Regions from separate parts of the Homo sapiens genome. Here region 1 is linked to region 2. Evidence: fine-mapped expression QTL. A gene starts in region 2. The other region holds a variant in brackets. All regions are shown on one strand. Distances are from middle to middle. Region 1 overlaps CEP78 (centrosomal protein 78). Region 2 holds the start of CEP78 (centrosomal protein 78).

Region 1 (2,921 bases), 23 kb after region 2:
GCGGTCACTCTATACAAGGGCTGTGGCACTGAAACTGTATAGAAGGCGGTGTAACCTGTATATACACAAGAGTTACAATATAACTCTGCAGTAGGCAGTATTAATTTAATCGTAGTAATGGAAATACTGCCGTGGTCTGTAGCTTTGATTATCAATTTGCATGTGATAGCAAAAATAACTAGCTTGTATCAGATTTAGCACGTATTGGACACTGTTCTAAGTGTTTTGCTTATATTAATTCATTTGATCCTCAGAATAACCTGTGGTAGGTGTTACTATTAGTCCTACTTTTCAGAAAAGAAGCTAAATTTAAGTAAGCCCAAGCTGTACTTAAATTTAGAGTTGGATCAGGGATTTGAGCTTAAGCTTTCTGCCTGTTCTCTTAAACACTGATCTATCTGTCTCTCAAAAAACAAACAGCTCTGCATATAGAACAGAATATAAATATTAACTTTAACAGTGTAAAAGCTAAGTTTGGAAGGTGGACACAGGTGGAAAGAAGGGACAAAAGTATACATGTCCCTATTTTACAAAGCAGGGCATTGAGAGAATTTAGAGTTGATAAACAATTTAAATTTTTAAGTAATGTATATCACTAGAAGTTGAAGAGATCATGACCAATGGAAAAACTAATGGTGATAACAACTTTATTGAGAGGAGTGGCTATAAGTAAGTAAATAAGTAAGAATGAACCAAACTCTTACTTAGTAAAGCAGGAAGTTAGTAAATAATGTCTAAAATCCGGTCATGTAGTTACCTAATACGTTATTTAGAACTAGAGAAGGATTAAAAAGAAGAATGGTTGACTTAAACCTCACACACAAAAAAATCCAAGTAGCCCATAAGTATGGAAAAGTGTTCAGCCATATAGGTAATCAGAGAAAAATGAACTGAAATCAGTATGAGATGCAACTACACTCCTATCAGATTGGCAAAAAATAAAATTTTATAGTGGCAGGTATTGTAGATCTGGAGTGTAATAAGAATCTTCCACCCTGCTTACACCGGAAGTATAAGTGAGCACACCTACTTTGGAAAGCGTTTAGCATTGTCTATCAATGGAAAGTATATAAATACGTTGGGACCCAACAAGTCATCTGAGGGTATATGCACCAGAAAAACAGGTGCAAAAGGGTCCACGTGCATTATTTGTAATAGTCCAACCTGAAAACAACCCGATGTCCATTAAGAATTAAAAATTAGATTGCATTTGTACACTGAGAAAACTATAAAAGTAATAAAATTGAATGAACAAGAGCTACAGGCAACAACAGATGAATTGTAAGAACAATGTTGAAAGAAAGAAGATGCAGAAGTGTGCATTCACTATGATTCCCTTTGCATAAAGTTAGAAGTAGGCAAAACTAGATTGTTAGGGATGCATGCATATAAAGGAAATGATCATTAGGAAAATGAGGACGGTGTTTAATTCTGGGAGAAGGAGAGGGGCTTGTGATGAGTAGAAGATATGGGGGATTTCAGAGATGCTAGCTAGTTGTACTTGCAAACTTGGGTATATGG[T/C]TACATGAGTATTCCCTGATAGTGTGTTTTATGCACTTTTCAGTATGTATAGCATATTTTGTGATTTAAAAAACCTGCTTAAAGAAATGGTTGCCTCTGGGAAGCTGGATGTGTGAGTGAGGAGGAGATTAACTTTCATTTTAAGCTCTTCTCTACTAATTCTGTTCGTATGTTTATTCATTTTGCGTTGATCATATTTTGTACACCAGGCACTCTTCTCAGTTTTATATGTGTGTTAATTTACTCCTTTCAAGAGCCCTATGATACATGAATTTATCTCCATTTTATAGATGAGGAAATTAAGACCTAGAGTTACTGAACTTGCCCAAGGTTATACAGCTGATGGGTAGGGCCAGAACTTTGCCTCAGAGAATCTGAATTTCCAAAAAATAACCTAAAAGAGAAATTTAAGTACTAATTAGTAAGCAAAGAAATGCACATTTAAGGAAGACAGTGCACATTTAAGGAAGACAGTAACCTTTTATCTATTAGAGAAAAACACACATTCTGTCTTTAACACACACATAAATCTTATATTGGCAGGGATTTTCTTTATTCAGCAATTATTTATTGGTTGTCTGCTTTGTGGTACACATAAATGCTGGGGATAAACACTTAATAAAATATACTTCCTTCTCTTGAATATCTTGCACTTTAAGTGGGAAGGTAAGTCAACAGAGTAGAGGTGATATATCCAAGTGATAGACTGTTTCATTGCCAGTAGCAGTATAAAATCTTAGAAATCTTTTGGAAAGCAATTTGGATGTAAGTATTGCAGAGCCTTAAAAATGTTTATTTGCTTTGACCTAAAATTCCTTTTTTATTTATTGCAAGAAAATTATTCTAAATATGGGAGAACAAAACCTTCATGCTTAAAAGTGGTTATTTTATCTTATAATGTTGAAAGTTGGAAACAGTCTTGTTAGCCATAAAGGAATGATTACATGAACCAGTAAGCTGGCTCAGTAGAATATTTTATTTAGCCCACTAAAAAAGTCAAAGTTGGCCAGGTGCGGTGGCTCACGCCTGTAATCCCAGCACTTTGGGAGGCCAAGGCAGGTGGATCATGAGTTCAGGAGATCGAGACCATCCTGGCTAACATGGTGAAACCCTGTCTCTACTAAAAATACAAAAAATTAGCTGTGCGTGGTGGCGGACACCTGTAGTCCCAGCTACTCAGGAGGCTGAAGCAGGAGAATGGTGTGAACCTGGGAGGTGGAGCTTGCAGTGAGCCGAGATCAGGCCACTGTACTCCAGCCTAGGCGACAGAGCGAGACTCCATCTCAAAAAAAAAAAAAAAAAAAGTCAGAGTTATGAGTTCTCTGATTCAGTGTTAAATGGAAGAATGTCTAACATAAAATTGGATATACAGTCTTCCCTCAGCATACTCGGGTTATTCC
Region 2 (2,921 bases):
CACATTACTGTATGTTTCTACATGGAACTCCCATATAACAACAGGGAAAATAAATGAATATCTCTATATGTCAACACGGATGGACCTAGTAAAGGTAACGATAAGTAAAGTAGGAAAAGAAAATATAGAATGTTATATACTGCTTACTTACATATGTAGCAGAAATATAAAGACATACATTGCAACGATGAATACCAAGTTCAGAAGAGCAGTTATCTCAGAGTCAGAGAGTAGTCGTGATTGGGAAGGTGGTTACACAAAGCTCTTCAACAGGAATGGTAATGTTTCATTTATTAAGCTGGTTTATGAATATACAAGCGTTTACTATATTAAGATTTGAGCATGTCGCACATAAAAATAATTGGTGACCATATCTCCGGAATTTTAGAGACGCCTGCATATGTGTGTTGGAAGTAAGTTGGAGTATCCGGAATGCAGTGGGTGGAACAGGAATGCAATAAACACAATGTCTAAGGCTCTACCGGAGGACTATCATTGCTCTAGCAATTGCATACCAATAGAAGGAGAGGTCAATTATCTGGATTCTTCCACTTAGCTTCCACTTAACTTCCCCGTTCCTCAGTTTCCCCTTTTGTAAAGTAGAATATAATAGTATATTCCTTGAGATGTTAGGAGAATGAAATGATTTCATACTTAAACATTGCTTAAAATAATCCCGAGGACATTATTTCAAATAAGTACTAGTTACAAGGGAGTTAGCCAACATCATCGTCAGTACAAAACAAACTGATTCACAGCAAACACAATAAAGTCCTGAATTCATGAAACACTCTTCAATTTGCCAGGAACCGTGTGAGATATGCAGAAACTACAGAAATTAAGGCTTATTTGTAGATATTAACACAGACATAAAAGATTTAATGACCGCAGTTCACGTTCAATCAGCCGTTCCCACATCCCTTGAGTGCAGTCTCTGTGCTGGCTGGACACTGCAAGCACAGACACATTCCTCAGATGTTTAGACTTTTTTTAAAAGTGCGTTGTTACATCCACATTTCACTTTTTATTTTCTTTCTTTTTTTGAGACGGAGTTTCGCTCTTGTCGCCCAGGCTGGAGTGCAATGGCAAGATCTCGGCTCACTGCAGCCTCCGCCTCCCGGGTTCTAGCGATTTTCCTTCCTCAGCTGGGATTACAGGCGAGTAGCTGGGATTACAGGCGCCCGCCACCATGCCCGGCTAATGTTTGTATTTTTAATTGAGACGGGGTTTCGCCATGTTGGCCAGGCTGGTCTCGAACTCCTGACCCCAGGTGATCCGCTCGCCCCCGCCTCACACAGTGCTGGGATTACAGGCGTGGGCCACCGCGCCCGACCACACATTTCACTTTTATTCGGATCGATCAGTAAACTCTTTCGCAAACCCTCAAACTCTCCCGACCACTATCTCAGGTAGCAGCGAACTCACCCGTCCTCAGGAGGCGGGACCTGCGTGCCGACGCACAGCGAGCACGTTGACGTCTTGGCGCACCGTTCCACGGCACCGCCCACCGGCTTGAATCCCGGCGCCTCAGAGGACTATGAGGCGGGCGCCAACTGCTTGGGCCGCAGGGCGGGAGGCAGCGCGGGAGTGGGGCGTTGAGGGGCCGGCCTAGCTTGGGGCTCTGGCCTTGCGTCTTCCGACCGAATCACCGCTCCTGAGCCCGGTGCGGGGCTGCCGCTATCGCCTGGCCGTGGGTGCCGGAGCGGCCGGGTTGCGACTCAGCGTTCTTGGGTGGGCGCGGGCGGCGTCTCCGCGGCGGGCATCCCCCGAGGCCGCCCTCGGGCCATGATCGACTCCGTGAAGCTGCGCCGCGACAGCGCGGCGGACTTCTTCTCCCACTACGAGTACCTGTGCGCGCTGCAGAACTCGGTGCCGCTGCCCGCCGTGCGCGCCTGTCTCCGGGAGGGCGTGCTGGATTTCAACGCCGACCGCCTCCGCGGGGTGGACTGGGCGCCTCTGCTGAGCACCCTCAAGATCAATAAAGACCTGCCCTTGGTCTCCATCAAGAGCTTCTTCCAGCCCTGGCTGGGGGACACAGGTTTGTAGTTCCCGCCTCCAGGGCCCCTCAGTCGGTGCGGCGAAGTGGGTTTTTAGGTGAGTGGTGTCCATTGTCGGGGTATGTGTGCAATAGAAGGGGTGTGCGGCCTGGACACTCACGAGCTAGGTGAGTGGCTTAAGGTCTCTAGGGCTTCAGTGTGCTCATCCGTAACATGGGCTTAATAACGAGACCCAGGTTATGTGCGCCTTCGCAAGGATTCCCTGCGCTGCTGATGCCTGCAGAGCTCTTAGCACAGTTTGGGACATCATTAAACATTTGACAGATGTTACCTATTTTATTGAATGACTTTGATTTGCCTGATAGAGAACTAAGCAGGTAGGAAATTAATACATGTCAGCCTTTGTCTTTTTTTTTTTTTTTTTTTTTTTTTTTTTGAGACACTGTTTCACTCTGTCGCCCAGGCTGGAATGCAGTGGCAAGATCTCGGCTCACTGCAACCTCCGCCTCCCGGGTTCAAGTGATTCTCCTGCCTCAACCTCCCGAGTAGCTGGGATTACAGGCGCGCGCCACCATGCCCGGCTAATTTTTGTATTTTTAGTAGAGATGGGGTTTCACCATGTTAGCCAGGCTGGTCTCGAACTCCTGACCTCAGGTGATCCGCCCGCTTCGGCCTTCCAAAGTGCTGGGATTACAGGCATGAGCCACCGCGCCCGGCCTGTCTTCATTTTTTAAGGTGTATATAAGAAGTTTGTAAAGTGCTTTACAAATACAAGCCATTTGTAAATGTATAGTGGTATAATTAGGGATCCAGACTCTCTGATTATTCGGAAAATATGTTAGGTCAACTATGATATATGACAAAATGCTGTTATTCCTTTGAGCACTTAGCATTTTCTACATAATGGAGGCAGCTTCCTATAGA

The links. PIP is the estimated chance that this variant, and not a neighbour inherited with it, causes the effect.
Region 1: its variant is the best candidate, but not a certain one, in a credible set for the expression of CEP78 in substantia nigra (GTEx, PIP 0.65).

The regions. Positions count from the first base shown.
Region 1 is chr9:78,257,901-78,260,821 of GRCh38, forward strand. The region is part of intron 11 of CEP78 (centrosomal protein 78); the gene reads left to right. Among named protein-coding and RNA genes, the nearest start is that of CEP78, 23 kb to the left of the region's middle. The variant T/C (reference allele first, on the strand shown) is at 1,522.
Region 2 is chr9:78,234,566-78,237,486 of GRCh38, forward strand. It overlaps CEP78 (centrosomal protein 78), which reads left to right and starts at 1,510. Exons shown (of 17, transcript NM_001330691.3): 1 at 1,510-2,038. The coding sequence starts at 1,786. RefSeq lists an enhancer at 1,239-1,908 and a silencer at 1,534-1,903.